Regions from separate parts of the Homo sapiens genome. Here region 2 is linked to region 1. The links come from fine-mapping of genetic effects on gene expression. Tissue or cell type: whole blood. Region 1 holds a variant in brackets; the other region holds the start of a gene. All regions are shown on one strand. Distances are between the middles of the regions.

What was found. PIP is the estimated chance that this variant, and not a neighbour inherited with it, causes the effect.
Region 2: it holds the start of GPN3, and the variant in region 1 is fine-mapped to the expression of GPN3 in whole blood (INTERVAL, PIP above 0.99).

What each region holds. Positions count from the first base shown.
Region 1 is chr12:110,488,983-110,493,147 of GRCh38, forward strand. It overlaps FAM216A (family with sequence similarity 216 member A), which reads left to right. Exons shown (of 7, transcript NM_013300.3): 7 at 1,037-1,403. The coding sequence ends at 1,155. It overlaps VPS29 (VPS29 retromer complex component), which reads right to left. Exons shown (of 4, transcript NM_016226.5): 3 at 4,014-4,165; 4 at 2,101-3,140. The coding sequence ends at 3,023. LOC124903016 (a long non-coding RNA gene) reads right to left here and starts at 311. Exons shown (of 3, transcript XR_007063459.1): 1 at 1-311. The variant C/T (reference allele first, on the strand shown) is at 2,474.
Region 2 is chr12:110,466,688-110,470,869 of GRCh38, forward strand. It overlaps GPN3 (GPN-loop GTPase 3), which reads right to left and starts at 1,570. Exons shown (of 8, transcript NM_016301.4): 1 at 1,469-1,570. The coding sequence starts at 1,516. It overlaps FAM216A (family with sequence similarity 216 member A), which reads left to right and starts at 2,158. Exons shown (of 7, transcript NM_013300.3): 1 at 2,158-2,331. The coding sequence starts at 2,189. It overlaps LOC124903016 (a long non-coding RNA gene), which reads right to left. Exons shown (of 3, transcript XR_007063459.1): 2 at 3,952-4,129; 3 at 3,602-3,764. RefSeq lists enhancers at 1,682-1,811, 2,732-2,901 and a silencer at 2,222-2,531.

The DNA of each region.
Region 1 (4,165 bases):
GCAAGCCAAGCAGGTGATATTATCAAAATTTTACAGCTGCAACTCAGACAAATCCAGACTTTGGAAGGATCAGCATAAAGGATCCTTCTACCACAAGAACAAAATACTGCAAAATGAAAAAGGGAAGACAGACCGAATGATCAGAAGTATTCCTCAGAACTGATAATGTTAAATCATGTTAAGTAGTTTCCTAGTTATCAGCATAGTGAAGTAGGGAGGTGGGTAAGAAGTAGGGAAGTTGGCCAGGCGCAGTGGCTCATGCCTGTAATCTCAGCACTTTGGGAGGCCAAGGCTGGCAGATCACCTGAGGTCAGGAGTTCGAGAGCAGCCTGACCAACATGGAGAAACCCTGTCTCTACTAAAAATACAAAATCAGCCGGGCGTGGTGGCACATGCCTGTAATCCCAGCTACTCGGGAGGCTGAGGCAGGAGAATGGCGTGAACCTGGGAGGCGGAGCTTACAGTGAGCCAAGATCGCGCCACTGCACTCTAGTCTCCAAAAAAAAAAAAAACTGAAGTAGGGAAGTTAGGCCTTCTGAATTGATATCCCATCACTGTATGACAGTGTTAGCCAGCTTTGCTGTAAATATCGTACCATGCCTATCCAAGAAATGAGGGAAAGGGCAGGAGAGAAGGGGTAAGTCAGGTTCCAAAAGGTACAGTTAGCGGAAACTGTAGGGGGGGGAGTCCCTGTGGTCCCCAATAGAAGAGATGAGAAGGAACTAAATGAAAATGCAGAGATTCTGAAGATGTAACTGACCACTTTAATTTCCCCCAACTGAAAGATTTTGAAAATCAATGGTAAAACAGGACTTAGTAACAAGAGAATTTGCTGTACAGTAACTTGGCTAGAATACAGTATTGTGTATCTTAAAGAGTAAGAAACTTGGGGGAAGGATGAGGTGACTAAGAGCCTTGAAAATTGCAGGCAATTTGTCTTTACTACAGGCTTATTAATAAGCCAGGTCATTTTGAAAGTTGTACTTAGAGCTTTATTTCCAAAACAGACAATTGTAAATTCTTATTTTTCCTTCAGTTTCTTCAGATGATTCTGAATCACACATGAGTGAAGAAAAAAAGGAAGAAGATTTACTAAATAATTTTATGCAATCAATGTCAATTGAAGAACAGGGAGAACATCTGATGTTAACTTGACAGTCTTGTCTCGTGTATTGAATTCGTGCCAAAGGTGAGGGTAAGGGGTTGTGAGTTGTGTCCTGTATGTTTAGGATGGTATTGTTATTTATTAAATCATTAAGTAATTTTGGTTTGTTCAGAAACTTAAAACAATGTAATTGGTCTGATGTAGTTCCATGTACCAATGATAGTTATGTAAGAAAATTTACATGTAACATATACTTGTACTTCTAGCTAGATACAATTAAAACTTTTCTTGCATTCAATATTGAATTACTTTTCTTTAAATCTGACAAATGCATCGTATTTCTTCTTTCTGTGTTCATAGTAAGTCCTAAAACAGCAATATTAGAATATCCTACAAGGGCCAGGCGCAGTGGCTCATGCCTGTAATCCCAGCACTTTGGGAGGCCGAGGCGGGTGGATCATGAGGTCACGAGTTCGAGACCAGCCTGACCAACATGGTGAAACCCCCGTCTCTACTGAAAATACAAAAATTAGCTGGGCATGTTGGTGTGTGCCTATAGTCCCAGCTACTTGGGAGATTGAGGCAGGAGAATTAGAATTGCTTGAACCTGGGAGGCGGAGGTTGCAGTGAACCGAGATCACACCACTGCACTCCAGCCTGGCAACAGAGCGAGACTCCGTCTCAAAAAAAAAAGAATATCCTACAAGTATTTTTTTGATTGGGCTAAGGGAAGCTTGGAAATATCCAGATACAGAATAGCATTTGACAGAGATGATGCTCTGACTTGCAAAGTAGGTGATCAATAAATATTTGCTATTTGAATACAACTTTAAAATGTAAATACACATTTTCCCTATCTTATGAAATTACCACATAAATAACTTGGGACTCTCGGACTAGATTAGGTTGGGAGTAGTTACACTAACAAGAGGATTCTTTACGTTATATATTACTCTAGTATGCTTCCTTGCTAAATTTGTTTTTTTTTTGTTTTGTTTTGTTTTTTTTTGAGACGGAGTTATGCTCTTGTTGACCAGGCTGGAGTGCAATGGTGTGATCTCGGCTCACTGCAACCTCCAACTCCAGGATTCAAGTGATTCTACTGCCTCAGCCTCCCGAGTAGCTGGGAATACAGGCATGTAGCACCATGCTGGCTAATTTTGTATTTTTAGTACAGACAGGGTTTCACCATGTTGGCCAGGCTGGTCTTGAACTCCTGACCTCAGGTGATCCACCTGCCTCAGCCTCCCAAAGTGTTGGGATTAGGGTGTGAGCCACTGTGCCCGGCCCCTAAACTTGTATTTTTAAAACTTTTATTAAACCTTGAAAAATGGAAATAGCAACAGTTTGAAGAATCACTGTTAATGT[C/T]GGCATGGTATATTATTTAGCAAATAAAATCTGAGTCCAACATTATGACACAATGTAAGAGAAGAGCTCTGAAAGGTCATCTCGTCCACTTTAATATTTATATCCGTAGTTTCACTTGGTTCCTCATTTTTATGTTTTTTTTTAAATTAAATACAGGTTATCAAAGTATAAATGAAAGGTAATTGTTTATTACTGGAGAAGAGAAAAATGTATACAAGAAAGTCTAGATTCTTTCTCCACATGCACTACTTTTGGAATAAAGTTCCAAATATCAACTTTGAAGATACTTACAAGGATAAATTTTTCTTAACAAGTGACCAATTACTGTGTTGTGGACATTTTTTCATAGAATCCATATACTGTAAACTAAATATATTCTTATAGTTTACAGGAAGCTTGGAGCAATTATGTATTAACAGAGAAGATGGTATTATATTTTACTGCAAAATATTATAAAAGTGATACAATTTTGTGGCTCTTAAATGTTTAATTACTTGATTTCAACAGGACAATGAAAAAAAACCAAAAATCATCAAGACAGGCCTGGCTTTAAGGTTTTTTGTATTCGATTCGTTCTACTTTCACATCATCTCCAATTAGCTGATACACATAGGTGACCACTGTAGAAGCCTGGATATCCATCAACACAAATGATGGAATAATGTTTCTAGAAGAAAAAATAAATAATGTCAGTGTTTTGTAGCACAAAGCAGCAGCACTATAAATTTCAATTTAAGATGACTATTTGGATTCAGAGAAATCTGTTACATATCACATGAACAGTTACCAAAAGATTGCCAAAATGGCTAGATTTATTTAAATGGTCACATGTGGCTGGGCACAGTGGCTTACGCCTGTAATCCCAGCACTTTGGGAGGCTGAGGTGGGTGGATCACCTGAGGTCAGGAGTTCAATACCAGCCTGGCTAACATGGTGAAACCCCATCTCTACTAAAAATACAAGAATTAGCCAGGCGTGGTGGCGGGTACCTATAATCCCGGCTACTTGGGAGACTGAGGCACAAGAATCACTTGAACCCGGGAGACAGAGGTTGCAGTGAGCCAAGATTGCAACACTACACTCCAGCCTAGGTGACAGAGCAAGACTCTGTCTCAAAAAAAAAAAAAGTCACATTTATTTTTATTTTATTTATTTATTTATTTATTTATTTATTTATTTATTTATTTATTGAGTCTCCTTCTGTCACCCTGGCTGGAGTACAGAGCCTCAAACGTGGCTCACTGCAGTCTCAACCTCCTAGGCTCAAGTGATCATCCCACCTCAGCCTCCTGTGTAGCTGGGATCACAGGCATGCACCACCACACCCAGCTAATTTTTAAAATTTTTTTGTAGAGACAGGGTCTCACCATATTGTCTAGGCTGGTCTCAAACTCCTGGGCTCAAGCAACCTGCCCTGGTCTCCCGAAGTGCTGGTATTACAGGCATGAGCCACTGTGCCCAGCCACATTTCTTTTACGAAATGTCACACATGCAATTATTTTACTAAAGCCCCCAAATTCCCAAATTCTATACTACTCACGTTTCCAAGGCATTATATGCCCCAGTGGCAGAACCTGGATTAATGTAGAATTTATTTTCATGCTCAAATGCTTCAAATTTGTGTGTGTGTCCCGAGATAAGAATGTCCACATCAAATTGCCTCTGCAACAGGGCTAAGCTGGCCATATCTCC
Region 2 (4,182 bases), 22 kb before region 1:
GCTTCACCATGGTGCCCAGGCTGACCCTGAACTCCTGGGCTCAAGTGATCTGCTGGCCTCAGCCTCCCAAAGTGCGAGGATTACAGGCTTAAGCCACCACACCTGGCCACATCACACTGTATCTTAATTGACAGGTCATCTATTTGTCTTCCCCAAAAGACTACAGACTCTGGGTAAGTTAAAGGCCATAGGTATCTTAGTTACATGTACATGTTTTTACCCAGAATAAGTCAACAGCTTAGAACAATGTGTTTGTTAAAGACTGAGGCCACACAACACCTCCACAGACTCTAGTGTTTCCACACTTCTTCTTTTTTTTTTTTGCGACAGTACCTCTGTCACCCAGGCTGGAGTGCAGTGGCACGATCACCACTCACCACAGCCTCAACCTCCTGGGTTCAGGTAATCCTCCCACTTCAGCTTCCCGAGAAGCTGGGACTAGAGGTACCTGCCACCAGGCCTGGCTAATTTTTGCATTTTTTTGTAGAGACAGAGTTTCGCCGTGTTGCCAAGGCTGGTCCCAAACTCCTGGGCTCAGGCGATCCGTCCACCTCCATCTCCCAAAGTGATAGGATTACAGACGTGAGCCACCACGCCTGGCTATGTTTCCCACACATATGTTATTTGATCCATATCTTCACCATTCTCACTGTATTTGAATGTTCCTAACATTCCCTTAATATTTGTTTACAAGAAAAAATTTTATCCCTACTGTAAACTGAAAACCACTTATATTTGACATAACGTGAAATTAGACATAAAATTATATAAAATCTTTAAATGTTCTATTTTTAGCTAAATACAGGTGCCTATTAAAAGCTCTGAGACTAAGAACTGCTCTCTGAAAAGACCTGGGGATTAAAGAAGTGCTGAAGATACACACTAGCACCGAGCACAACTTCTCCTAAATGCGAAGTTGAGAACTGAAAGAGAAATGAAAAGGGAACAATTTCCCTAACACATTATCTGATGCTCCTTAATGTGGGGTCCATGTACCACCTACCACCTAAAAGCACCTTAAATACCAAAAGTCCATGTCCCAAGTTCTGAGAAACAGTAATTAATGAGACCCCACTTTACCCTCCTGGGAGCGAGACAGGGCCGGATTCTGGAGTTGAGACAAAACTGGATTTATATTTTTTTGCGGGGCAAAGAACTTAATTAACCTTTCTGTATCTCGTTTTCTGTAAAATGAGAAAAATGAGATCTCTCTCACAGGGTTGTTGTAGAAATAAGCGAGGCGTTTCATCTGCTGCCTGGGGCTTAAGTATACAATAAATATTAACAACTACCATTATTTCCCTTTCAAAACAACAACAAAAAAGAACGTGAAGCCAGACAGCAGAAATGAGTTGCGTGGGGTCTCAGGGTTCCCAGTACACACACCCGCCGGCTCACTCCCTCAGGACCCAATCTCCCGCCTTCCACGAACTCCTACTTTTCTCTCCTTGTCCCCGCAGATCCTCACCTTCCCGCTGCCCGCGGGGCCCATGACCAGCTGCGCATACCGAGGCATGTTGGCTCCCGGAGCCGCCCGCCACACTCCCTTAGCCTTCGCGCGACGCCCACTGAGCTCCGGGAAAGTGAAGTGCGAACCAATCGCAATCCACATTCTTTCTACGCCTCCAGTTCTACCACACCTCCTACTACGGGGCAGCCCGCGGGCCAAATCCCGTGAGAAACGCGTCCTGAGAAAAAAGGGGAGGGGCGAGGGAGAGGATTTGCGCGTGCGCAAAAGTAGTTGATGGAAATCGGCCGTTGGGATGCTGTCTAAGCTTGGATACCTGAGTAATAACGGACAACAGATAAAGCTCCGCATCCTTGCGCCACGTGCTTCGGTCCGTGGTTTGCGTGCAGACGTTTGACCTGTATGGTGACCCTCGCGATTTGCAAATGTGCTGAGGATCTGGAATACTGAAGTGGAAGGCACCTCTTGTTTTGGGGAGCATGTATATTTCCCTCCTGTGACGCACTGCTTCCACAGAGAGGTGCAAACGTGCAAACGCTCAGCGACCGCAGCGCTCCTGCCCCTCCCCCACCGTAACTCCGGGGTCGCGGATCTGCCCGCCCCGCTCTCCCGAAGCTGTTCGGGCAGTGTCCGAACGGCTTCGGAGGGGCGAGAAGCCAGCATCCGAGCCGCCTCTCCGGAATACCAGCAGCCTGACGCACGCGTGCTGTCGGGGGAGGGATGCTGGGACAGCTGCTCCCGCACACGGCTCGCGGTCTCGGCGCCGCGGAGATGCCCGGCCAGGGTCCGGGGTCCGACTGGACGGAGCGTAGCTCTTCTGCAGAGCCGCCCGCTGTGGCCGGGACCGAGGGTGGCGGCGGCGGGTGAGGTTGGGGGCCCCGGGGTAAGGGTGGCAGCATGGGGCCCCCGGGTCGTGAGGCCCCCGGGTCGTGAGCCCCGTGGAGGAGGGCTGCGGCCGACCTCTCGTCTCGGGGGCTGGCCCCGGTGCCCTCAAGTGAGAGGCGGGGAGCAGTTTTGTTGTGGACAGAGGGCAGAGGGGAGGACTGCCTCGCGGTTGAGGGAGGGTCTCTGAGGGAAGCTTCGGAGGAGCGTTTGGTGCAGTGGCCACGAGGTGACTGCGACAGTCGCCCGCGTGCATCTCTCTGCCCCGAGGGGGCGCTGCGAGCCCTGCTGGGACGTTTGCTGTCTGGCACAGGACTGTGTGTCCACCGAAAGGCGAGGCGGGAGGGACAGAGGAGGAAGATGTCCCCCGGTTCAACTGGGGGCATCCAGGCCCATAAACCAGTTCCTTCCCTCTAGTGACATGAGCCACCTTCCTGTCAAACGGGGATTTCTTTTTCTTTTTTTTTCTTTTCTTTCTTGTTTTTTGAGAGCGAGACAGTCTCGCTCTGTTGCCTAGGCTGGAATGCGGTGGTGCGATCTCAGCTCACTGCAACCTCAGCCTCCCAGGTTCAAGTGATTCTCCTGCCTCAGCCTCCCGAGTAGCTGGGATTACAGGCGCCTGCCACCACGCCCGGCTAATTTTTGTATTTTTAGTAGAGAGGTGGTTTCACCATGTTGGCTAGGCTTGTGTCGAACCCCTGACCTCAAGTGAGCCGCCCGCCTCGGCCTCCCAAATTGCTGGGATTACGGGGTGAACCATTGCGCCCGACCTCAAACGAGGATTTCTAATCGCCAATGAGACCAATGACTGAATATCCGAGGTGCCTTGATCTTGACATTTTCTTCACACTGAAGTTCCTTTTTTCACAAATCTATTTCGTTTTGAGCAGGTTTTTACACCTATTTCCTAGATAGTGAAGACAGCGAGCTGTTGAAGTCACTGCTGGAGACTCTACCTCCTCTTCCTCTCCCTACTTTATTCCCTAAAAGCAAGAACTGCGATATGTTTGCCGTTCAGTACAACCCGCAGTCAGGGCCCCTGTTGCACCCATGGCCATCCTTTTTGTTTTTTTTTTTTTGAGACAGAGTCTCGTTCTGTTGCCCAGGCTGGAGTGCAGTGGTGCCATCTCAGCTCACTGCAAGCTCCGCCTCCCGGGTTCACGCCATTCTCCTCCCTCAGCCTCTGGAGTAGCTGGGATTACAAGCGCCTGCCACCACGCCCGGCTACTTTTTTGTATTTTTAGTAGAGACGGGGCTTCACCGTGTTAGCCAGGATGGTCTCGATCTCCTGACCTCGTGATCCGCCCGCATGGCCGTCCTTTTTGTCTCTGGTGCTACTGAAGACTTCTTAAAGATGGGATGGAGTCTTGGGTTTCTTTTCTGTTCTTCACAGTCCTTGGCCGACTGCAGGATCCTGGTGTATCAGGAGATACGTGAATTTTTTTTTTTTTTTTTATTGAGACAGAGTCTCCCTCTGTCACCCAGGCTGGAGTGCAGTGTCACGATCTCAGCTAACTGCAACCTCCGCCTCCTGTGTTCAAGCAATTCTCCTGCCTCAGCCTCCCAAGTAGCTGGGACTACAGGTGTGCGCCACCACGTACCTGGCTAATTTTTGTATTTTTAGTAGAGATGGGCATGAGCCTGTAATCCTGGAAGGTTCTATTATGATCCCCACTTTATGGATGACAAAACAGGCACAAAGAGGTTGTTTGTCCTTTCCTTTTATCTCCGCCTGTCGTTCATCTCCATGCTTCCTTTAGTTTATCCAAACTCTTAAAACTACAATTAAAAAAAAAGACAGTATGCCCTTCAGTTTGGTTTAAGGAACCCCA